Linked DNA regions of Homo sapiens. The protein of the gene in region 7 purifies or fractionates together with the protein of the main gene of each other region. This does not show direct contact. Each region holds a gene or a part of one and is shown on either strand. Other genes may lie near its edges. The genes, in order: PGAP4, TMEM87A, REEP5, XPO5, GTF2IRD1, SURF4 and ADORA2B.

The links.
Region 1: the proteins of ADORA2B (region 7) and PGAP4 purify together in Homo sapiens (affinity purification with mass spectrometry; one large-scale study listed by BioGRID and IntAct). This does not show direct contact.
Region 2: the proteins of ADORA2B (region 7) and TMEM87A purify together in Homo sapiens (affinity purification with mass spectrometry; one large-scale study listed by BioGRID and IntAct). This does not show direct contact.
Region 3: the proteins of ADORA2B (region 7) and REEP5 purify together in Homo sapiens (affinity purification with mass spectrometry; one large-scale study listed by BioGRID and IntAct). This does not show direct contact.
Region 4: the proteins of ADORA2B (region 7) and XPO5 purify together in Homo sapiens (affinity purification with mass spectrometry; one large-scale study listed by BioGRID and IntAct). This does not show direct contact.
Region 5: the proteins of ADORA2B (region 7) and GTF2IRD1 purify together in Homo sapiens (affinity purification with mass spectrometry; one large-scale study listed by BioGRID and IntAct). This does not show direct contact.
Region 6: the proteins of ADORA2B (region 7) and SURF4 purify together in Homo sapiens (affinity purification with mass spectrometry; one large-scale study listed by BioGRID and IntAct). This does not show direct contact.

Annotation. Positions count from the first base shown.
Region 1 is NC_000009.12:101,480,674-101,484,173, forward strand, and holds part of PGAP4 (GPI-N-acetylgalactosamine transferase PGAP4), read right to left. Parts: intron 834-3,500; exon of another isoform or gene 690-833; intron 53-689; exon of another isoform or gene 1-52. UniProt on the Homo sapiens protein: Golgi-resident glycosylphosphatidylinositol (GPI)-N-acetylgalactosamine transferase that catalyzes the N-acetyl-beta-D-galactosamine transfer from an UDP-N-acetyl-alpha-D-galactosamine to the 4-OH-position of the first mannose of the glycosylphosphatidylinositol (GPI) of a GPI-anchored protein (GPI-AP).
Region 2 is NC_000015.10:42,263,434-42,266,933, reverse strand, and holds part of TMEM87A (transmembrane protein 87A isoform 1 precursor), read left to right. Parts: intron 1-2,730; coding exon 2,731-2,844; intron 2,845-3,500. UniProt on the Homo sapiens protein: Potential monoatomic ion channel gated by mechanical force, implicated in normal touch sensitivity through the generation of mechanically activated currents.
Region 3 is NC_000005.10:112,912,228-112,915,727, forward strand, and holds part of REEP5 (receptor expression-enhancing protein 5), read right to left. Parts: intron 1-3,500. UniProt on the Homo sapiens protein: Plays an essential role in heart function and development by regulating the organization and function of the sarcoplasmic reticulum in cardiomyocytes.
Region 4 is NC_000006.12:43,548,539-43,552,038, forward strand, and holds part of XPO5 (exportin-5), read right to left. Parts: intron 2,916-3,500; coding exon 2,760-2,915; intron 2,474-2,759; exon of another isoform or gene 2,432-2,473; coding exon of another isoform or gene 2,430-2,431; intron 1,397-2,429; coding exon 1,355-1,396; intron 1,041-1,354; coding exon 951-1,040; intron 1-950. UniProt on the Homo sapiens protein: Mediates the nuclear export of proteins bearing a double-stranded RNA binding domain (dsRBD) and double-stranded RNAs (cargos). XPO5 in the nucleus binds cooperatively to the RNA and to the GTPase Ran in its active GTP-bound form.
Region 5 is NC_000007.14:74,456,906-74,460,405, forward strand, and holds part of GTF2IRD1 (general transcription factor II-I repeat domain-containing protein 1), read left to right. Parts: intron 1-3,500. UniProt on the Homo sapiens protein: May be a transcription regulator involved in cell-cycle progression and skeletal muscle differentiation. May repress GTF2I transcriptional functions, by preventing its nuclear residency, or by inhibiting its transcriptional activation.
Region 6 is NC_000009.12:133,369,561-133,373,060, forward strand, and holds part of SURF4 (surfeit locus protein 4), read right to left. Parts: exon of another isoform or gene 1,362-3,500; coding exon of another isoform or gene 1,316-1,361; intron 1-1,315. UniProt on the Homo sapiens protein: Endoplasmic reticulum cargo receptor that mediates the export of lipoproteins by recruiting cargos into COPII vesicles to facilitate their secretion.
Region 7 is NC_000017.11:15,972,630-15,976,129, reverse strand, and holds the end of ADORA2B (adenosine receptor A2b), read right to left. Parts: intron 1,452-3,500; coding exon 788-1,451; 3' UTR 384-787; downstream 1-383. UniProt on the Homo sapiens protein: Receptor for adenosine. The activity of this receptor is mediated by G proteins which activate adenylyl cyclase.

The DNA.
Region 1 (3,500 bases), on a different chromosome or scaffold from region 7:
GGACACAGGAGCTGGGATCAGATCCTTCATTCAAGATTAGATGACTGCTTTGCTGAAAATCCAACCACATGGAGTTATGTAGTCATTCAGGAGTATGTTCTTGTTTACTTTTTAAAACATTTTTTTAAAAGATTTAACCAATTGTTGCACAGTAGCCTGTGGTGTCCAATGGCACCTATAATTTATTTCACCTTACTGATCTGGTTTTAAGAAGAATGGCCAGCTGGATGTGGTGCCTGAAGCCTGTAATCCCAGCACTTTAGGAGGCTGAGGCAGGTGGATGGCTTGAGCCCAGGAGATTGAGACCAGCCTGGGCAACATGGCAAAACCTAGTCTCAACAAAAGATACAAAAATTAGCCAGGCATGGTAGCATGTTCCTGTAGTCCTAGCTACTCAGTAGGCTGAGGCAGGAGGATTGCCTGAGCCCCAGCAGGTCGAGGCCGCAGTGAGCTGTGATCGCACCACCGCACTCCAGCCTGGTTGACAGAGAAAAACCCTGTCTCAAACAAAAACAAACAAACACACAAACAAAAAAAGATAAAAGATAAATGGCCTTAGGGGAACAGATATAAAAACATAGGATTTTTCACTGCTAGTTTGGGGAAGGAGTTTTTTTACTCCCAGCCCAATCATAAGGGTGAGACAAGAGGGCTATGTCTATGTTACCACTCTGATTGTCTTTTTCCAGAATTCCAGTTGCCCATGATGTCACAGGCTGAGGCCCACACTCCAGAGACACTGTGGACTGACTGGCACCTATGAGCTGACCTAATAACAGTTACACCATTACAGCTCCGATTCTACAGAACAATACATATCCAGTTCTTATCTATGCTTTGCATGTGCTCTTTGAAACACAACCCTTCCCTAAACAGAATTCTCTACCTGTTACCATATCTAGAGTGTAGGGCTCAGGGAAGACAGTAAAGGACACAGACTCTGAGAAATGAACATGAACTAGGGCTTAGATGAATAAATGGAGCTACAACAATAGTTATATTTTAGTGCAACTTCTGAAAATTAAACTAAAGGATCCACGGGTGTGGAAGACACAATACCAGGGTGTGAGTCAGGGGATGAGTGCTCAAGAATGTTCTGTGTTTCCCAAATCCACTATATGAATGGCACGACCACTTTCCCAGGCAACTCAGTCTAAAACACTAGTTAGTTCTAACTTCTCACCTCCACGCAGTCACTTCCTAATCCCACCTCTACGGCCTCTTTTATTATGCCTCTCTTTTCCCCTCGCCTTCCCCTTGTCAAGCTTTCCTCCCTGCCACACTCTAGTTCCTCCTCAGCACCTCCAAGCCAGCTGATTGCAACAGGCTCCTAACAGAGCTTCTGACCTCCAGAATGAGCAACACAAGCCAAAAGATCTAGGTCCAATTCTCGTCCCAACACTCACTAATTTGATCAATTTGTATAAAAAAATCATTTATCTCTCTGAGCCTATTTTATTTCTCTGTGAAACAGGAAAATAAAAGATACTTCAACCAGGCGCGGTGGCTCACACCGGTAATCCCACCACTTTGGGACGCCGAGGCAGGCGGATCACGAGGTCAGGAGATCGAGACCATCCTGGCAAACATGGTGAAACGCCATCTCTACTAAAAATACAATAATTAGCTGGGTGTGGTGGCACGTGCCTGTAATCCCAGCTACTCAGGAGGCTGAGGCAGGAGAATCGCTTGAACCAGGTAGTCGGAGGTTGCAGTGAGCCAGATTATGCCACTGCACTCCAGCCTGGCAACACAGTGAGACTGTGACGATGAAGAGACAACAGCTATGATAGCCCTTTGTCAGGCATAGGACACTGTGCAAATGATGGTGATGTTTTACTTGATCAGCATCCATCTGATACTCTGAAGCATAAGTCAGAACATGGCACTCTTTTCTGTAAAACTATTCAATGATTCCCCCATGACTGTAGAATAAAGTCCAAATTATTTGCCAAGATTCTTCACAATCCAGTTCCAACTATCTTCCCAGCTGCATTTTTGCTCCTCACACTGTCTAACTCAACCATCAAGAATTAGCTCAAAAGGTACCTCTTCCAAAACCCAACCCTGACCTTTCCAACCAGAAAGAATCTCTTTTTTTCCCCTCAAGTACTGGGGCCCTTTCTATGAACTTTTCCTCCAGGGCATTCATTTGTCACTTTCTACTTCAGACTCATCTATTTATAGCTACCGCTTATTAAGGCCATACTACATATCCCAATGTTGTGCTAGACCCTTGCATCTATTTCTTCTGAACAAAATAGCAACTCTCAAAATAGCAATGGAATTAATCCCATTTAGTTGACAAAACTGATGCTACCAAGTTGCAAGAGGAAATTCAAGGACAAGGATAAATTTCAAAGCTCATGTTTTTCTATGATGCCTGTTGTCTTCCATGGCCTTGTTTATGGTCCTTGACTTACGATCTGATTGGACTCTTGAATCCTTTTTTAGTAGATTCAGTCTGATTTATCTTTGGTATCCCTCACAGACCCAGCACAGAACTATGCATAGAAGATGCTCAATGCTTGTTAAGCAAATAATTGGCTTCTTTTGACCTCTATGGGTCTCAGGTCCTCAGCTATAAAATTGGTAGTATCAAAGAGCTGGTCATATACTGTGTAGAGATCGACTTATTTGTAAATGTTTCCAGAACACTTATGTGCCAGGCACTGTTCTAAGCATCTCATCTATCGATCCTCATAAAAAGCCTCCAAGAAGTATGACTATTAAGCCCATTTTATACTTTAGAAAACTAAGTTTTTAAGCAGGGTGGCAAAACTTGAACCCAGGCAGACTGTGTCCAGAACCCACATTCTCAACCAATATGCACTACTGCCTACATAAATTTGGAGCCCAGGAAAATCAACTGAAAAACCATTAGAAATGGCAATAGACTCAAAACATGGTTGGTACCAGAATTAATATGTAAAAATAATATATAATATACATAGCAAGTATATATACACATGTACTATATATATGCATTACATATCCATATCTGTATCTATATTATCTATATTATAATGACTGCTTTCATGTACATGATCACCAATGAACTAAGGGAGTAAAAGATCCCAGTCAAAAGGGAAAAAAATAAGCAACTCAAATATCTAGAAATAAATTTCAGAAATATGCAGAATATACACACATACTACAAAATTCTACCAAAGGGTAATTAAAAAGTCATTAATAAACAGAAAAATAATGCTTAGGTGGAAAGACTTGGTAATAGAGCTCCCTTTCTCCATAATTAATCTCTATATTTAACATCTGAATTTAATTTACTTCGAGGGAGTGTCACAGTTCAACAACTAGGCACTTTAATATAAATTGGTGCAATCTTTGGAGGAAATGTTGGGGTGTTGGGGCAGTATCTATAAAAATTTTATAAGTGCATCCCCTTTGACATAACGATCCTACTTCTAGGAATCTACTCTGCAGAAATGCCAACACATGCTACCAAAGATGGATAAGAAATGTTGAGTGCTGTTTTGTAT
Region 2 (3,500 bases), on a different chromosome or scaffold from region 7:
GTAATGGTAGTTTTTCAGTCATTCTTTCAAGTAAATATGGTGTTTCGTGGAAAAAATGATTAGTTTAACTCACAAGTCAAAGCAATTGCAGAGTGCTTTATCTCAAGACAATAATTTATTGTATTTTGCATGCTTTCCATTTTGTCACCTAGATTATTTAAAAAGTCAGGTACTCAAAAGGTCCAGATTTAATAACATTAATAATTTTTACTGCTTTATCTAGGATATTCTTACATAAAAGTGGCATTTTTAAAAACTGCCAGTTTGTGACTATGAAGAATATGACTGCTAGTAGAATTAAATGCCACTGCCTTAGTTCCTGATAAGGGGCAACAGTTTTACCCACTATTGCTTTTGTAATATCGTTACAAGTCAAATAGCATACTATTATTATTATGAAAATAGTTTTTTTTTTTTTGAGATGGAGTCTCACTCTGTCACCCAGGCTGGAGTGCAGTGGCGCGATCTCAGCTCACCACAACCTCTGCCTCCTGGGTTCAAGTGATTGTCCAGCCTCAGCCTCCCAAGTAGCTGGGATTACAGGTGTCTGCCACCACACCCGGCTAATTTTTGTATTTTTAGTAAAGATGGGGTTTTGCCATGTTGGCCAGGCTGGTCTCAAACTCCTGACCTCAGGTGATCCACCTGCCTCAGTCTCCCAAAGTGCTGGGATTACAGGCGTGAGCCATTGTGCCCAGCCATGAAAATAGTTTTGTCTATGGTTCAACGGCCACACTTTTGAGAATTGCCATAATCTAGAATACTTGAGCGTTGAAAATATATTGCTCAAAGAATAAAGCTGGAAGCATCACATTACCTGACTTCAAACTGTACTACAGGGCTACAGTAACCAAAACAGACACAAAGACCAATGAAACAGAGAAGACAGCCCAGAAATAAGGCCGCACACCTACAACCATCTGATATTTAACAAAGCTGACAAAAAACAAGCAATGGGGAAAGGACTCCCTATTTAGTAGATAGTGTTGCGGTAGCGTGCTGGCCATATGCAGATTGAAACTGGACCCCTTCCTCACACCATATTCAAAAATCAACTCAAGATAGATTAAAGACTTAAATGTAAAACCCAAAACTATAAAAACCCTGGAAGACAACCTAGGCAATACCATTCTGGACATGGGAAGTGGCAAAGATTTCATGATGAAGATGCCAAAAGCAATTGCGCCAAAAGCAATTGCAACAAAAGCAAAAATTGACAAATGGGATCTAATTAAGTTTAAGAGCTTCTGCACAGCAAAAGAAACTATCAATAGAGTAGACAGCCTACAGAATGGGAGAAAATATTTGCAAACTATGCATCCAACAAAGGTCTAATATCCAGCCTCTATAAGGAACTTAAACAAATTTATATGCAAAAAACAACCCCATAGAAAAGTGGGTAAAGGACATGAACAGACACTTTTCAAAAGAAGATATACAGCCAACAAGCATATGAAAAAAAAAAAGCTCAGTATCGTTGATTATTAGAGAAATGCAAATCAAAACCACAATGAGATACCATCTCACATCAGAATGGCTATTATGAGAAAGTCAAAGGATAATAGATGCTGGCAAGGTTGTGGAGAAAAGGGAATGCTTATACATTGTTAGTGGGAGTGTAAATTAGTTCAACCACTGTGGAAAGCACTGTGGCAATTCCTCAAAGAGCTAAAAACAGAATTACCATTTGACCCAGCAATCCCATTACTGGGTATATATCCAAAGTAATATAAATCATTCTACCGTAAAGACATATGCACATATATGTTCACTGCAGCACTGTTTACAATAGCAAAGACATGGAATCAACCTAAATGCCCATCAATGGTAAACTGGATAAATGTGGTACATATGCGGCCATAAAAAAGAATGTGATACATATGCAACCATAAAAAAGAATGAGATCATTTCCTTTGCAAGAACACAGAAGGAGCTGGAGGCCATTAACCTTAGCAAACTAACACAGGAACAGAAAGCGAAATACCACGTTTTCACTTATAAGTGGGAGCTGAATGATGAGAACACATGATCACAAAGAGGGGAACGGCAGACACTGGGCCTACTTGAGGGTGGAGGGTGGGAGGAGGGAGAGGATCAGAAAAAATAACTCTTGAGTACTAGGCAGTACCTGGGTGATGAAATAATCTGTAAAACAGTTCCCTGTGAGTTCAGTTTACCTATATAACAAAGTTGCGTATGTATACCGGAACCTAAAATAAAAGTTAAAAAAAAAATATATATATATATATACACACACATATATATAGTTCTGAGTTGAATTTTTCAGACCTTTTCCATTCTGTTTCTATCTCTCAATTTGCATTTTTAAGAAGATTATCCTAGTTCTGTGCTTGCAACAATTTTCTGCTCTATCTTAGCTTATGAGCATGAATATTTTTTTGTTGATGTTGTTAATTTGGTCAAGTAAATCTTTTAAGTATATTTTAATGTGACAAAACCCTCTACACTCTGGCAGTTTCCCAGTCTACTCAGAATTGTTAGTAGAACTATGCCTTGTGAGCCAAAGACTAGAGTCTAATAGTCCTTGAGTCTGATAGTGTTTGATTCTTAGATATTTTTATATAGAGCCTTTATCTGATGCTGTTCATTTTTAAAATAGCAAACTCAAAATTGTATCTGTACTGCAGGTGAACTGTTTGTTGTGCTGTGCTCTTAGTATCTTATTTTTTGGAAGGTGAGTTAACTACTCTGTATTATCTCTTTTTCCAGGCAGAAGAAGTAGAGTTGTATTTGGAAAAACTTAAGGAAAAAAGAGGCTTGTCTGGGAAATATCAAACATCATCAAAATTGTTCCAGAACTGCAGTGAACTCTTTAAAACACAGGTAATCTTTGAAAGTGATTGGAGATAAATAGAATAGGCAAAAATTGGAATGTATATATTTTTGGCTGTATCCACTTCCGACTTCTCAAGTATTTCTTTTGGCAGAAGTAAGTGGAAGCATGTTCTGATAGGTACATAGTCAGCCACTTATACATACTCATCAAAGAGAGGTTGTACTTTGCTTTGTGTGTAAAAAGCAAACCCCCATTTTTTTATTGTGGTAAAATATACACTACATAAAATTTACCATTTTAACCATTTCTAAGTGTATAATACAGTGGCATTAAATATATTCACATTGCTGTGCAGCCATCGACCCATCTCCAGTACTTTTTTTTTCCCCAAGGCAGATTCTTGCTCTGTCCGCCAGGCTGGAGTGCAGTGGCACAATCTCGGCTCACTGCAGTCTCCATCACCCGGATCTAAGCAATTCTTTCACCTCAGCCTCCCAAGTGGCTAGGGCTACAGATTCACACCATTACGCCTGGCTAATTTTTTTTGTATTTTCTGTAGAGACAGGATTTCACCATGTTAGCCAGGCTGGTCTTGAACTCTTGACCTGAAGTGATCCACCCACCTTGGCCTCCCAAAATGCTGGGATTACAGGTGTGAGCCACCGGGCTGAGCCCCATCTCTAGTACTTTTATCATCCCAAAC
Region 3 (3,500 bases), on a different chromosome or scaffold from region 7:
ACTCACACCTAAGACACATAGGTACATACTATGTGTTCTGTGCATGGTTCATAAGTAACTCAGTTGCTACAATTCAAACTAGCCAAATGACATAAAATTAAGTAATAGTATGTCTTCACAGCATTGGCTTTATTATTCAAACCAGTTGTACCAATATCAACTATTTACCAGAGACTGACAGTGTGGAAAAAAAAGCAGTTCATTAAAATATATCTATATATCCATTTATACCCATATATATTTTAATTTTATCCATATATATGGATAAAAAGCTTTAAGATGTCCTATTGGTAAAGAACAGAAAGGAATCATCTTCTGGTCCATCTGCTTTATATTTTATTTCTAATGTGGTAACTTATGTTTAATAGCAAATATTCCAGAGGTTAAGATAGGTTCTTTGGAAATTGAATATGAAGAACATGGACCATAATGTTTATAATCCTTTTTGTTATGGCAGACACATAACTTGACCATCCTCCATGCCCACCATGCATGGGATTGCTTTTGGCTGTATTTATCAGAGAGTATGATGTAGGAATTCTTAGTAATTCAAAATGGTTTTCCTATTATCAGTACCTCAAATAAGAAGGAAAAAAGAATCAGACATTTTAAGACATAAACACTAGTTCGTTTCCATGCCAATAAGGAAAATATTTTTCTCCTTCATAGAAAAAAAGAAGGCAGGAAACTATGCGTGATCAGAAAGTTACATATCTTTTTCACTGCAGAGTATATGTGCTTTTAAAGCAAGAGAGAAAACCAACAAACAGTACGAGAAAGACTAATGAAAGACTGACCGGGCACAGTGGCTCATGTCTGTAATCCCAACACTTTGGGAGGCCAAGGCAGATGGATCACCTAAGGTCATGAGTTCAAGACCAGCCTGGCCAACATGGTGAAACCCCATCTCTATTAAAAACACAAAAAATTGGTGGCAGATGCCTGTAATCCCAGCTACTTGGGAGGCTGAGGCAGGAGAATCGCTTGAACCCGGGAGGTGGAGGCTGCAGTGAGCTGATTGCGCCACTGCACTCCAGCCTGGGCAACAAGAGGGAAACTCCATCAAGAAAGAAAGACAGAAAGAAAGAAAGACAGACAGACAGAAAGGAAAAGAAAGAAAAGAAAGAAAGAAAGGAAAGAAAGAAGAAAGAAAGAGAAAGAAAGAGAAAGAAAGAAAAAAAGAAAAGAAAAGAAAAAAGATTACAGAGGCAGTGGAGTGAGAATAGCTAGAGCCTGGGAGGTCAAGGCTGCAGTGAGTCATGATTGCACCACTGCACTGCAGCCTGGGTGACAGAGTATGACCCTGGCTAAAAAAAAAAAAAAAAAAAAAAAAAAATTAAGATGAGTCTATAGAATACCTATAATGAAGTATAAAGAAAAAAATGCAGTCATTCAGTGGTCAAATCTTTTGGTGTTTAATTACAGTGATCTCATTTACCACTATCCACCATTTTGTTTTTAAATGCAAAATGGAAGAGTCAGTCACAGTCAAATATAACAATGCGGAATGTGGACAGACATCCCTACACTTAAGACTGAATTGGTCCCAACACACCTGTGACCTATGTCAATTAACTTCAGTTTGTGGCCTTGATTTCCACATCTGTTACAGGTGGCTATCACCCTAGCAGCTTAGTCTCTAAGACCCCTTTTAGCTAACATTTTATAACTCAAAACTGAATGTGTGTGTGTTTGTGTGTGTGTGTGTGTGCACCCAGGAGTTTGAGACCAGCCTGGGCAACATGGCAAAACCCCATCTCTACAAAAAATACAAAAAATTAGTACACACCTGTAGTCCCAGCTACTCCAGAAGCTGAAGTGGGAGAATCACCTGAGCTTGAGAAAGTCAAGGCTGCAGTGAGCTGTGTTCATGCCATTGCACTCAGCCTGGGTGACAGAGTGAGACCCTGTCTCAAAAAAAACACACTCAAAAAAACCAGGCTGGAGTGCAGTGGCGCAATCTCGGCTCATTGCAACCTGTGCCTCCTGGGTTCAAGCAATTCTCCTTCCTCAGCCTCCCAAGTGTGTGTGTGTTTTTTTGAGACAGGGTCTCACTCTGTCACTCAGGCTGAGTGCAGTGGCATCAACACAGCTCACCACAGCCTTGACTTTCTCAAGCTCAGGTGATTCTCCCACTTCAGCTTCTGGAGTAGCTGGGACTACAGGCGTGTACTAATTTTTTGTATTTTTTGTAGAGATGGGGTTTTGCCATGTTGTCCAGGCTGGTCTCAAACTCAAGCAATCCACCCATCTCAGCCTCCCTGCCTGTCCCCCCAAAAAAACTGTTTGAATGATTGATGGTAAAAAAGATTAATGCCAGGAGCAATAAAAGAGCAGATGCAAATCCCACTGGGACAACCCTTTGTCAATAAAACCAGTGGTTCTATAAGTATCTGTGTCAGATTGGTATCATAAAGTTTAACTTAATCTCAAGTAACCTCACAACTTAGAAGGGGAACAACCTAAGCTGCCTTTTCCTAGGTAAAGGAGGGCCACCTTAGATGCGGACCGCAGTCTAGACAAGTGAGCGATCCCTTAACTAGATCACTTGGTCTATCAGAGGCTGCAGGATATATATAGTAGACACATGACTCAGAGTGACTGATAAGCTCCACTCCCTGGAATCAGGAAAGTGTGCAAGTGACAGAATGAAGTCAGGGTACGTTTCTACAGCCCCCACTTATATTTCAGCTGCTACAAAAAGTAATTTCATTCACAATTTTGAAATTGTTTTAAAACTTCTGCCATATTAATTCATACTTCCCCAAAATTAATTGTTAATGTTATGAATCACCACTAAATACCTTAACATGTTATATTTGTATTTATACTTGTTTTAAATGCCATGTGAAAAAATTAAGTTGAAAACTGAGTCCTCATTCAAAGTCAGTCCTGAAAAAGAGAAGTCCAGGTCAGAAGGAGATGAGGGAGGCTACGACAGAAAGAAGGACAAATAGACTAAATCTCCAGGGCCTTCATAAAGAGAAAAAAAAAAGCTCATAAGGAACATTCCAGAATAGAGTATTAGAAATGAGATCCTCCTCCACAACTGCTTTAGAGCCCAGAAACTCTGATCATGAATAAATAATTTAAATCATTCATCTTATTTGCTTTTTAAAACTTTATTTTCTTTATGACACAGGCAAGCGGGCGAACCTTAACTGAAACGCTGGCTGTCATTATTTTACAAAATAGTCACAAGTTGTTATAAGGATATTTTTATTACTTTTTCATTTCTCCACAACACTTTCATCTTAAAAGAGTCCAGCACTCTTAGCAGTAATGTTAAGTGAAACAAGGACAGTAAAAAAGTTGAGGAAGGTTAAATGTTTAAATGCTTAAGATTTCAGATTTAAATTAAGTAAATTAAAGATTTAAATGTTTAAGTAAATTGCTTAAGTCACAGTTTGCAGAATGCCTGTTATATTTTTTATCCAAGTGCACATCGGCCAGAAGGCCACATTGGCTTGTGCTTCATACTACCCCAGAAGGCAAAGCGC
Region 4 (3,500 bases), on a different chromosome or scaffold from region 7:
GAAGAAAACCAAAGCAGTCCCAGGAAAGTCAGGCCTATAAGGTTATTATTTGGTAATTCTGTTATATGTCTTTATTTTGCCTAAATAAGCAAGGCAATTTAGGCGGAAGATAGCTCTTGTCTTGAGTATTTGGATAACTGCACTTTCCCATACTACAACTGTGAAAAGATCAGCTTGTTTTATATATATATATAGATATATATGTATATCTATATATATATGGAGATAACTGCTGTGCATTCAGAGAAGAAATTTCTGGATAATTTGTAATCTGGAGTAATGTTAAATTTCTTATAACCCCATGCCCCAAAAAGGGTTGTGATTTGCATCTGCTTTTCTCAAGATCAGGCACATCATTTGGCAGTAGTAATTAAGATCATCACATAGTAAAGAGTTGTAGAATTATAGGGGTAAACTTAGTAATCTATATGGCAGAGAACTATTTGTATTTTGAAGAGAGATTACATTTGCCATCACATTTCTAACTATACTACTAAGTATACTAAGAAAACACCAATTCAAGAATGTTTATTTATTTATTTTTGAGATGGAGTTTCGCTCGTTGCCCAGGCTGGAGCAATGGCGTGATCTTGGCTCACTGCAACCTCCGCCTCCTGAGTTCAAGTGATTCTCCTGCCTCAGCCTCCTGACTAGCTGGGATTACAGGCATGCACCACCATGCCCAGCTAATTTTTTTGTACTTTTAGTAGAGACCGGACTTCACCATGTTGTCCAGGCTGGTCCCGAACCCCTGGCCTCAGGTGATCTACCCACCTCAGTCTCCCAAAGTGTTGGGATTACAGGTGTGAGCCACCATGCCCGGCCAAGGATGCTTATATGATGCAAAGCTATAGTTTCTAGTTTTTTCTTTATGTGAGGTACACTGAAAGCTGGATTTACACACAAATGTAACCAAACTTGGCTACTTCAGCCAGGGTCCAGCAGCTTACCAGCACAAGCTGGGGGTAGTCACGACACATCTTGATGATGGAGGAACAAGCATGCCTCCTCACATTCCTCACTGCCCGGGTTCTGGGGGCCTGAAAAGAGACATTCAACAAACTCGGAGCTGCTTTTAATATAATATACAGGTGCTGCATAGACTCATGTGAATATCTCAGTCAGGGGCAAATTCACAATGATTTTTCACAACCCTAAGAGTATAATGGAGTAACATTTATAGCCACCAAGAATCCATGTTTCTTGTATGCCCTATAGTGGCAAAACAACATATATGATAATCTACCACCCTTACTACCCCCTCCCATTTATATAAAAATATAAACTGAGTATCAGGTATTCATACATTTGTACTCAAGAAGTTAGAATCTATTGGTTTAATTAATGGTCTTACCTTACTTTCTTCAACAGTTTCAAAAGTGACAGATGAAAATAGCTAAGGGAGAGGAGGAAAAAAGGTCACTCATGTTTATTTGTTTTAGAGATGAGATCTTGCTATGTTGCCCAGACTAGACTTGAATTCCTGGGCTCAACTGATTCTCCTGCTTTAGCCTTCTGAGTAGCTGGGACTACGGGCATGAGCTTATTCATACTGTCCATTTTCTCAGATAACCTCTACAAGAGTCATCGGAGTCACAATTTTACCATCAAAACATTTTACAATAGGATCCCAGAACAATTCATGCCATCACCCAAGCACTTGGCTATGGAAACGCCTCTCTCTTCTTTTATCAAAAGTTGTATGGTCTATCCCTTCTATTCCATTTCATTATTTCCCATTTACTCCTCATTCCAATGAAATATGGCTGCTTACTTGGCCACTATTATGGAATTAAACTCAGACAAGAGTGTAGTCAAGAAACTCACTGGGCATTCTCCAACTCAAATAATTTGCAACAAATGAGCCCACTTTTCTGAAGTCCTACTGGTCTTGTGACACAACATTTTCTTCATTTCTCTGGCTCTTTTTCCTTCTGTGGGGGCTTCTCATTTTTTTCTCCACTCCTCCAATGATGGTGATTCACTAGGTTCCTCGCTTGACTCACATGTCTCCTAACTCTACATACATAATCACTTCAGTAAGACTTCACTTTTAGTCGTGGGACTACTATGATGATGATGCTTTAATTTTATCTCATTACTTTCTAGAGTCTAGATCTTCAACCTCAAATAGCCAATTTATTGTGAGATGTCTCCATAAAGATGTTCTACATATTCTTCAAACACAGTATTCCAAAATACTCATGCTTTCTCTTCTTTAGTCCCGTTCTCCTTTGTGATCTGGTATTCTGACTCAGGGAGTGGCTCTATCACCCACCTAGTCAACTGAACTGGAAACCTGGAAAGTGTTCCTTCCTCTCATAAATCCCCTCCCTGCCCGACAGCACACTCTAATACTCTCCTTTATACAAGTCTTCATTGCAATGCCATATAGGTAACATTAACTGTTTTTGTGCCTTTCTTCCCAGAGTGTTCCTAAAGAGTGAGGCACTAGCATGGTACCTGATCCACAGTAAGTACTGAGTAGATATTTAATAAATGAATAAATAGCTGTGTTTATTAGTTTGCCTCACATAATTTTAAAAATAGTTACAAAAATAATTAGCCTAGGCCAGGCATGGTTGTGCATGCTTGTAGTCTCAGCTACTCAGAAGGGTGAGGTGTGAGGATCCCTTGAGACTAGTAATTTGAGTCCAGCCTGGGCAATGTAGCAAGATCCTGTCTCCAAAAAAATAAAATAAATAAAAATTAACTTAGAAATGTCAAAATAAAATTTACAAAGGAGATGGGCTTTATACCTTAGAGAAGACCTGGGGCAGGAACTCTGGTCTGTAGGTGACAAATGGAAAGAGTGCAGAGACATTAGTAAGGACGCAGGACAGGATGAGGGGATCCTTGGTATCAAAGTTCAGAACCATCTGCAATAGCTCTATTCCATCATTAACAGGAATTTCCTGTAACAAAGACATAAAACAGGTTGACAATGGCTGCCTCCACTTAGAAATAACCATTTTGGCTACATTTTATTTTCATCTTTTAAAGAGACAGGGTCTCATTCTGTCACCTAGGCTGGAGTGCACAGTGGCACAATCATCACTCACTGTAACCTCAAACTCTTGAGCTCAAGGGATCCTCCTGCCTTAGCCTCCTGAGTAGCTAGGACTACAGGCGGGCACCACCATGCCTGGATACTTTCTAAAATTTTTGTAGAGATGTTGTAGAAGTGTTGTTATGTCGACCAGGCTGGTCTCAAACTCCTGGTTTCAAGTGATCCTACGGCCTCAGCCTCCCAAGTAGGTGGGACTACTGGCACGCACCACCATGCCTGGCTAATTTTTTAAATTTTTAGTAGAGATGAGGTCTCACTATATTGTCCAGGCTGGTCTCAAACTCCTGGGTTCAAGCATTCCTCCCATCTTGGCCTCCCAAAGTGTTGGGATTACAAGTGTGAACCACCGTACTCAGCTGTGCGTGCCCTTCTTACCATCTTCTCAGCAGTGTATTATTCCCTAAAACCTCTTAAATTTTGTATTTCTTCA
Region 5 (3,500 bases), on a different chromosome or scaffold from region 7:
GCTGTGGTATCTTTGGGCTGAAGACTTCCTCGTCCTCAGGGCTGGCCATGGTTCCACCTTTATATCCCCATGATGTCCTCTCTTTTTTTTCTTTTTTTCTTTTTTTGAGACAGTCTTGCTCTGTGCCCAGGCTGGGGTGCAGTAGTGTGATCACAGCTCACTGCAGCCTCGAACTCCTGGACTCAAGCCACCCTCCCACCCCAGCCTCACAAGTAGCTGGGACCGCAGACAAGGGCCACTACACCTGGTTAATTTTTTATTGTTTGTAGAGATGGGGTCTTGCTATGTTGCCCAGGCTGGTTTCGAACTCCTGGGCATGAGGAGTCCTCCCACCTTGGCCTCTCAAAGTGCTGGGATGACAGGAGTGAACCACCGCGCCTAGCCAACATCCTTTCCTTCCTTTGTCCCAACATTGATCTTACTCAGATGTTTACATCTCTCTCCCCAATTGCACTAGGGACAGGAAGGGATGGAGGCTTGCTCCTCAAATACTTGTTAAATGGCTACATGTTTGAATGAATGAATGAATGAAATCCTGCTCTTGAGCCTTGACCTAAATGGCTAAGCAGACTCTCTCCTATTTTTCTTAAATGCTCATCTCTGGGGCAAGTTCCCCACCCTGGTAGGAGTCCCAGGGTCTCTCCCTGAACTTCCTGGGGCCCCCTCTCTCCCCACTACCCCAGCCTGTGTCTTCTCCCAACCTTAACCCTGGGGGCTTTGCTCCCCAATGTCATCCTCTCTGTATCTCTCAGTTCTCTGACTCTCGCCGTTTGTAAGTATCTCTCTCTCAGATGCGTGGCAGCCAGGGTCACAGCCAGGTTCTTTGGGACAAGCCAGGGGTGTATGCCCAGCTCCATGGGGCCTGCAGAGGCTTCAGGGGACACCCATGGAAGAAGACCTGCAGGGCCAATTTATAAACAGAGGAGCAGAGCAGGACCCAGGGCTTGGAATCCATGCTGAGTTACGTTTTTGTTTTTTTTTTTTTTTTTTTGAGAGGGAGTCTCACTTTGTCGCCCAGGCTGGCATGCAGTGGCGCCATCTCGGCTCACTGCAACCTCTGCCTCCTGGGTTCAAGCGATTCTCCTGCCTCAAGTAGCCGGGATTACAGGCATGCTCTACCACGCCCGGCTAATTTTTGTATTTTTAGTAGAGATGGGGTTTCATCATGTTGGCCAGTCTGGTCTAGAACTCCTGACCTCAAGTGATCTGCCCGCCTCTGCCTCCCAAAGTGCTGGGATTGCAGGCATGAGACACTGCGCCCGGTCCTGAGTTCAGTTTTGATTGGGGGGCTTCCGGGATAATATGGGGCCGCTAGGACAGGGACCCTTAGTGTGACTGGAAGGGAATTTCCTGAAGGAATTCATAGCAGAGGTGGAGTGGTGGGAAGGATGGTTTCTGGGGGAGAAGGAGATGCGTGAACCTGGCCAGAAGACAGTGTGTTGTGACAGATGATTGCTGGTGAGGGGGTAACAGTCTCCAAGGTGTAGATGTTGGGGGCTCCAGATACGGCAGGAGGGGCCTGGCCTCTCGGAATCCCCTCAGCCCCATCTCATAGAAACATGTGCTTTCTACCCAGGCTCCATACTCCGGAAGGGAGGCAGGACCCTGTCACTTTCTTGGCCTACTTTGGAAGTTCTCAGTCAGGTATCTCCAGGTGTGGCAGAGGGGCTTTGGCCTGTAGGGGGTGTGGTAATGTGGGTTTTGGAGGCAGAAAGCTTTTCAGGAAAGCCCCCTGGTCCATCACCCCCCTTTCTTTTTTTTTTTTTTGAGATGGAGTCTTGCTTTGTTGCCCACGCTGGAGTGCAGTGGCACGATCCCAACTCACTGCAACTTCCACCTCCCGGGTTCAAGTGATTCTCGTGCCTCAGCCTCCCGAGTAGCTGGGATTACAGATGTACACCACCACACCTGGCTAATTTTTGTATTTTTAGTAGAGACGGGGTTTCACCATGTTCGCCAGGCTGGTCTTGAATGAACCCCTGACCTCAAGTGATTGGCCCTCCTTGGCCTCCCAAAGTGCTGGGATTACAGGTGTGAGCCCCCAGGCCCGGCCTCATCATCACTTCTTCACCCACCCTATTTTGGTAGCTCTCTCTCCACTCGTCCTGTGGAACTGATCCATTCTCGGTCCCATTCCCTTCTCTCTGGGCCAATCTGCACCTAGGTTTGTGGCTTCATGAGTATGGAGGGTCGTGCAGAAAGGGGCCAGGTCTGTAGGAACCTGGGTTCATGCCCTGGAAATTTGCCCATTTAAGATAAGTTAGGGCCGGGTGCGGTGGCTCATGCCTGTAATCCCCAGCACTTTGCACTTCGGGAGACCGAGGCGGGCGGATCACCTGAGGTCAGGAGTTTGACTAGCCTGGCCAACACGGTGAAACCCCATCTCTACTAAAAATACAAAAATTAGCCAGGCGTAGTGGCGGGCGCCTGTAATCCCAACTGCTCGGGAGGCTGAGGCAAGAGAATTGCTTGAACCTAAGAGGTGAAGGTTGCCGTGAGCTGAGATCGTACCATTGCACTCCAGCCTGGGCGACAAGAGTGAAACTCTGTCTCAAAAAAAAAAAGATAAGATAGGTGTCCTGAATAAGATAGGTGAAATGGGTGAGGATGTACTTTATCTTACACGGTCTTAGGGAGTGTCTCAGGCGGTGAACAGAACTCTCTCGCCCCTGAGCTGGGGCCTGGCTGACCCAGAGCTATTTGTGTGCCCACCTGTCACCCTCTTTCAGGACCACCTGCTTCAGGTTGCCAGATTTAGCAAATAAAAATAAGGATGCCCAGCTAAAATTGGATTTCAGACAAGCAAGGACTAATGCAATATTTGGGATGAACTTCTAGCTAAAAGTTACCTGTTGTTGATCTGTAGTTCAGACTGAACTGGAGGTCTTGCATTTTATCTGCCAACCCTACAACTGCTGCCTCTGGGGCGGTGAGATGGATGGGGTTTGGGGAGGGGCCAGAGGTGTGTGTGGCTGACCCTGGAGTTGGGATCAGGGCTCAGTGGAGGCCCCGGGGATGATCTGGAGCGAGTTTGAATCGAGTGGAGCTGATTCACTGAATCTTGGCTTTTTTTTTTTTAATTTGTATTGAAATGAGGTCTCACTCTGTCACCCAGGCTGGAGTGCAGTGGCACAATCTCGGCTCACTGCAGCTTCTCCCTCCCCGGCTCAAGCGATCCTTCTGGCTCAGTCTCCCAAGTAGGTGGGACCACAGGCACACGCCACCGTGCCCGGCTAATTTTTTGTATTTTTGGTGGAGATGGGGTTTCGCCATGTTGCCCAGTTCCTGAGTTCAAGTGATCTCAAAGTGCTGGAATTACAGAAGTGAGCCACTGTACCCAGCCAGCAGGGTCCTTTTTCATTTTTATTTTATTCTATTTTTTGAGACAGTGTCTCACTCTGTTTCCCAGGCTGGAGTGCAGTGGCGTGATCCTACCTCACTGCAACCTCCAACTCCTGGGCTCAATGTGATCCTCCCACCTCAGCCTCTGCACCTAGCTA
Region 6 (3,500 bases), on a different chromosome or scaffold from region 7:
CCAATGCAGAGAACCAGCACAAGATGCCCATGTGCACAGTGTGACGCAACCTGCATCACACTGGGTGGTGGGAAAGGTGACGCCACACACCCTCCCCAGGTTCTGCCTCATGGCCCCGTTGCTCTCTAAATGCCCAGCAACAGTGTAATCACCCATATTCCATGGAAGAGAGAAAGCACACCACCGTGGCACACGATGTGCCACTGCTCTCAAGGAATGGCCTCACATCGTGGCCCAGCTGGGAAGCCCCAGCAAGGACACAAGCCTTTATCTCATCTGAACCTGGGGAAAAGCAACCACTGGGAAGGAAGAGCTCAACAGGAGGCTGTCCAGACCTCTGAGATGAGACGGAGCCGTGGTGGGACTCCCAGGGCAGGGTGTGGGTGTGGGGCGTGGACCCCAACAGCAGCAGAGAGGTAGACTGCAATCCATACCCAAGACAGACACCAGAGGTGTTCTGACTTGCTTCTAAAATGAGAGCTGTGAGCCACTCACTGGCCTGAGATGAGCAAACCAGCCCAGCCATGGGCTGCGGTCTAAGCCTCCCCCAGTTGCAGGACCTGCATTTAACATGCTCATCTACGTGCACAGCCCACGAGATTGAGGCAGTGTTTAAAAGTCTCTTTGAATGAGTCTGCGACTCTTAATTTGAGTGTCTGGGTCAAGAGGATTAAAGAGCAAAAAAGAGAGAGAAGGTGGGACAGGCAATTCACACCTCCTTCCCTGCGCAAACATGGTGACGAAACAGACACAGCTCTTGGCTTTGGGGAAAAATATGCAAAAATCTAGGTACTGCCTTCTGAACTGAGCACACCTACTGCTTGGCTGTCCTGGTTTTCAAAGGCAAGCCTGGTCCACACTGAAGGCTGAAGTCAGGCTGATGCAGTCTCCTCTAAACTGGCCACCATTTAATGAGCATCTGTTTGGACTGAACACTGAAAAAGCCACGTTTAAAGACAAGGCCCAACATTAACCTTATTTCCTACATGCATGTTGGTCACAACTACTTCAACTTGGCCACTGGAACCATGTCATGCCACTCTAGAACACGTCCCAGAGCCAGTGTCCCCTCAGCACAGCAGAGAAGAGCCCTCAACACAGGCAGGACACACAGCACCCCAGGACAGACAAGAGCAGCCGCACTGCAGGCACTAAGGCCATTGCTGGTAGCCAGCACACAGGTGACCTGTGTAAACACGGCGAGCACATAAAACTTGTGACAGTCCCCCTCCCCCCCATTAGAGAACTGCGACAGCAGAGCCAGAGGTGGCTGTTGACCTGGCAGGCTGCAGGAAGAAGATGACAGTTAGCTCACCTCTGTGGCCAAGCTTCTCATTAAGTCTCTCCGAGAACCGCGCCATCAAGCAGGATATGGTTCATAAGCAGTGACAGCATCTGAGGGGCTTAACAGGAAGACTGATATTTCTCTCAAAGGGGTGGTTATTTTAGACGACTGAAGGGGATTTTAGAAACGTAATTAATTATATCCACCCTGAGATGACTTCCTGGGCATCCAGTGATCACTGTCACAGCCACCTGCAGCTCCCACGCCACACAGAAAACTCCACTTTCTCTTCACACTCAGGACAGAAAGAAATTGAGGAAAGCAGCTTGCAAATTCGTGGTGAATGTGAACATCGACGAAAAAGGCAGGTCAGATTTCCTTGATCACCAAGGACTGGGGCTGCCTTGTTCAAAGCCCAACTCAGGTCCCACACATCCTAGAAACAAGCACCTGCGGCCCAGCGGCTTCCCTCACATCAGCCTGTCAGAGCTGGCTCGAGCTCACTGGCTCACTGCAGCTCCAGAACTTCCCCGAGCCCCGCTCCCATGCTGCTCTATAGGTTCACACTGCACCCTGCAGGGCCAGAAAGGATGTCGCCAGCCCAATGTGGGAGATGATGGCCTGGCTTTACTAAAAAACTGTGTGATCAAAATCCCAACTATAGGAAAGACGTAACTGAGAACGACTGGGCCCCATGTTCTGGGAGGAGCCCCGCTAACCACAACCTCCTCTGCTCCTCGCCCGCACTCCCCTGAAGAGTGAGTTTTAACCTCCCGTTAAGATCATCACACAAAGAAAAGTGAGTCAGCTCCTCTTTGCCTTCTCTCCCCACTCCTTCATGATATAGGGCAGGGTATGACAGAGCCTGCCACTGTCACCAGGACTTTGCCACACCAGTCACCAGCATGGTGTTCATCGGGACCCTCACAGTGCCTGTGCCACCTGCAAGTTCAGGGGTCCTCAGGCCTATCCTTGCTTCCCCAGCACTTCAACTAGGGCCGAGGCCAGCTCCTAGGGCCCAGGACTAGCTCTGCCACTCTTGAGGACAGGTTAAAAACACCAAAGGTCACACTGGAGAGGAAGGCCCCATGCAGCTTTTCTGTCACCTTGGTGATGAGCCACCAGGCAGAACCCATTAAGTGCTAATATTGCTGTTTATGGGTATAAACTGCTTAGAAGCTACATTTTACAGAGTGTCTAATAGGCAATGAGGAGCAGCTGCAGGCATGGACATTAGTTTGGATTGCTGAGTTCATTAGTTTCTGGACCCTTCCCATGGCTTCCAAATGCCAAGCTCCTGCATAGAGCACGTCTCAGCAGTTTCTACAGAGCATGGCTCCTGGGAGCAAGAGGACACTGTCCCTGGCTGCCAGAGCAAGCAGCTTGATGCCAGAGGCAGAGAGACAAGAGATGCAACTGTGGGGAGCCTGCCAGCAGAAACTAACCAGACTGCTCGTCCCCGTGGACCAGCCTCTGCAGGCCAGAAGGAAAGATCAGTCAACCAAGCAGTGAGGAACCCAGCCTTTGGGGTAACAGGATGCGGACTCAGTCTCCAGGCCACCACAAGCCAGTGCGGCCAGCCAACCTCCCTCTGCCCATCTGAAGATGGTGACGCTCTGGCCAACCTCCTACAGTCAAGAAGTTCACAAAAGGAATGTCTATCATGGACCCGGCCCAGTGAAAGACTTAATGTCATTGTCATAATACTGGAAGACACTGGGCCTGGGAAACTAAGCTTACTTAGGTCTTGCTTTCAGCAGCCCACACTTTCTGGTCAAATCTTGTCACTTCAGTTTTGCTCTTGTTTTCTGAAGATGTGAAAAAATGGATGTGTCACTTTATCTGATCAGTGACTTCCATGGTAATCCTCTATCGGCTTCAAATTAGGTCATTTTCATGTAAAAGCCTGGTCTGGCAGCTTTAAGTACTATGTGAATAAAGAGAAACAAAGCCCCACCTGGGCTTGGTCAGATTCTGTCCACAAGAAGCCATATTTTGACTTCGAACCCTGTTTACTTGCCTGCATCTGTCTGATTGGGGTTTGGGCGAGTACAAGTAGCTGCCCTCCCAAGCTGCCCACAAAAGGGCATGGAAGCTCCCACAGCCATGCTCTGCCACCACCTAGACGGACTCTTAAGGAGATCATCTGACGGCGGCAGCCTGCGCTGCCTTACAGATATGGTGCCTTACAGATATGGTCCTAACCCACTTGGGT
Region 7 (3,500 bases):
TATATATATATATATATATATATATATATATTTTTTTTTTTTTTTTTTTTTTTTTTTTTTTTCTGAGACAGAGTCTCACTCTGTCACCCAGGCTGGAGTACAGTGATGCCATCTGGGCTCACTGCAGCCTCCGCCTCCCAAGTTCACATGATTCTCCTGCCTCAGTCTCCTGAGTAGCTGGCACATGCCACATACCCAGCTAATTTTTGTATTTTTTAGTAGGGACGGGGTTTCACTATATTGGACAGGCTGGTTTTGAACTCCTGACCTCGTGATCCGCCTGCCTTGGCCTCCCAAAGTGCTGGAATTACAGGTGTGAGCCACCATGCCCGGCCGAATAATTATACTTTTAATTTTTGAGGTCACCTTCCTGGCAACAAGTATACATTTTTAGTACAGTCAACTTTTATTTTTCCATTGCCTCTAAGTTAAAAAGTATTTGCATTATAATAGTTCACACTGTTTCACAGTAAAATAGTTTCAGTAATTTTCCACCATAAACAAGGCAGACTTTTAAAAACAAAAGAGTCTGTTAGAATCCATTCAAGCTGTTGGCATAATCCACACAGTAAAAGCAGCTGAATAGATCATAAATATATTTGTCAATCCTTGGAGCCTACTACTGACACATACATATTAGCTAGATACGTGGTAGCTCCAGGGAAGTGCTCAAGAGAGGCAGTCCATTTCCTTGTGAGGTGTAGCTATCTTTCACAATGAAAACCAGCCGTGTCCTCTTTGTTTCTTGTGGATTTGTATCTTCTCCTGGAAGAGGCGAGAGCCTAGATCATAGGCCCACACCGAGAGCAGGCTGTACCCCAGCCTGACCATTCCCACTCTTGACATCTGCTTGGCAGAGAAGATACCTGGAGATAATTTTGTGAAAAGTGTAGCGGAAGTCTCGGTTCCGGTAAGCATAGACAATGGGATTGACAACTGAATTGGCATGTGACAGAAGAATGGCCATATTCATTGCCCACTTGGGCTTATTTTTACCCTGAGCTGGCTGGAAAAGAGTGACACAGTTAACAGCATGCACAGGTAACCAGCACAGGGCAAAAATCCCCACAATCATGGCCAGTGACTTGGCTGCATGGATCTCCCGCTGGAGGGTGGTCCTCGAGTGGTCCATCAGCTCAGTGCGCTGAAGCTGCCTGCAGGCCACCAGGAAGATCTTAATGTAGATCACCAGCATTATAAGCAGTGGGGGCAGAACACACCCAAAGAAATTGAAATATACCATGTAGCTCATGGGGACCACATTCTCAAAGAGACACTTCACAAGGCAGCAGCTTTCATTCGTGGTTCCATCCCAGGGTTCTGTGCAGTTGTTGGTGGCACTGTCTTTACTGTTCCACCCCAGGAATGGAGTCAATCCGATGCCAAAGGCAAGGACCCAGAGGACAGCAATGACCCCTCTTGCTCGGGTCCCCGTGACCAAACTTTTATACCTGTTTAAAAGAATACCATCTGTTACGGTCAGTTTATAGCGCTCTGCAACCACAATCCAAGACCCCACCTCCTCTTTTTTCCATGACCCTTTAACAACCTCTAAAGTTCACCTTCCAGGGCACTAAGGCCTTTACCCTCAATACTAAAGACATGCAAGCAGGGATGAGCAGCTTTGCTCTAGAAAACTCAGTAAGATCTTCATTCTTGACTTAGCAACTCCTTTCTGTTTAGTGACACAGGATGGCCAATGACAAGAGGTGGGGAAGCCTTAAGGGAGTACTGTAAGTCCTCAATGTCCTCGGTGGGTTCTCAAACTGTGACTTGAAGTATATGTCATAGGAAGTTAACTCTTGTTTATATTGTTAAATCAAGTTTAGCCTAAAGCTGCCTCCTTACATATTTTAAATTTGGCCTAAAGGTTTCTCTGTACATCGTGGACTACAACAAGTGGACGTGTAAACAGACTATAGCCTGCACTCATGCCAATCCTCGACTTTTGGCCAATCAAATGTGGCCAACTGTTCGAACCCTGTTCAAAAAGGGCAAATGCTGAGCTATAACCAATCCAGCTGTTTCTGTTCCTCACTTCCATTTTCTGTACGTCACTTTTCCTTTTTCTGTCCATCACTTTCTTTTTTCTGTCCATAAATTATCTTCCACCACGTGACTGCACTGGAGTCTCTGAGCCTGCTTTGGCTCAGCAGGCTGCACAATTTGTGAATCATTCTTTGCTCAATTAAGCTCTTTTAAATTGAATTCAGCCGAAGTTTTTCTTTTAACAGTATCAACTGTGGTAAAATTGGCTTTGTTATACAGTGCATCATTTTGCTTCAAGTCACAGTTTCCAAAAACCGATCGACTTCCTATACTTCCTACCTACCTAGGTACCGCTCTTTGAGTCTAGGTCTTCTGTAAGGCATTGTTCTAGGTCAGTGGTCCCCAACCTTTCTGGCACCAGGGACCAGCTTCATGGAAGACAATGTTTCCACAGACCAGGGGCGGGGGGTGATGCATTAGATTCTCATAAGGAGCGCACAGCGTAGATCCCCTGCGTGCACAGTTCACAATAGGGTTAGCTCCTATGAGAATCGAATGCTGCTGATCTGACAGGATGCAGAGCTCAGGCAGTAATGCTCGCCTGCCTGCTCACCTTCTGCTGTGTGGCCCAGTTCCTAACAGGCCACGGACCAGTACTAGTCTGCAGCCCAGGGGTTGAGGAACCCTGTTCTAAGTGCTTGAGATACATCAGTGAACAGAACACACAGAGATCCCTACTAAATTTTAACAGACTCAGATCTAGCAGGGGTAAACATAATAATAAACAGTATGGAGATATATGTGGTATGAAACATGAAAAAGCAGAGTAAGAAAGATCAGGATGGGCAGGACTGTAGTTTTAAAGAGGCTGACATCATGGATAAGGTGACACTTGAACAAAGGCCTGAGGCAGTAAGCACTGGAGTCAGCACCACCTGTGGCTCCAGGCAAGGATCTTTCTGGCTTCCCACAAACACCACAAGACATTTGCCTAGGACTATGGGCAGAATCATTTCTGAATACCTCTGCAGACTGCTGGAGAACAAGAGTCTAGCAGTGCCCCTGTCTACTGAGAAATACTAGCAGCAGAGTTGATAAAAATTGGGAAATAGCAAATATTAAATTTTTTGGTCATCTTCAAGCCATTAGATCACAAGTTGGAGACCAGCCTGGGCAACATGGTGAAACTCCATCTCTACAAAAAAGTACAAAACTTAGCCGGGCACGGTGGTGTATATCTGTGGTTCCAGCTATTTCGGGAGAATGAAGTGGGAGAGTCAGGATCACTTGAGCCCAGGAGGTTGAGGCTGCAGTGAGCTGTGATTGCACCACTGCACTCCAGCCTGGGTGACAGAGCAAGACCTTATCTCAAAAAAACAAACAACAAAAAAATACTAGAAACCACTACTGGGGATACCAATACAAAGGGACAAGATCCTAGTCCTTAAGAGGTTTGACCAGTATCCAGTTGAGAGATACAACATGTATCAGATAAGCAGGCTCTATGACAA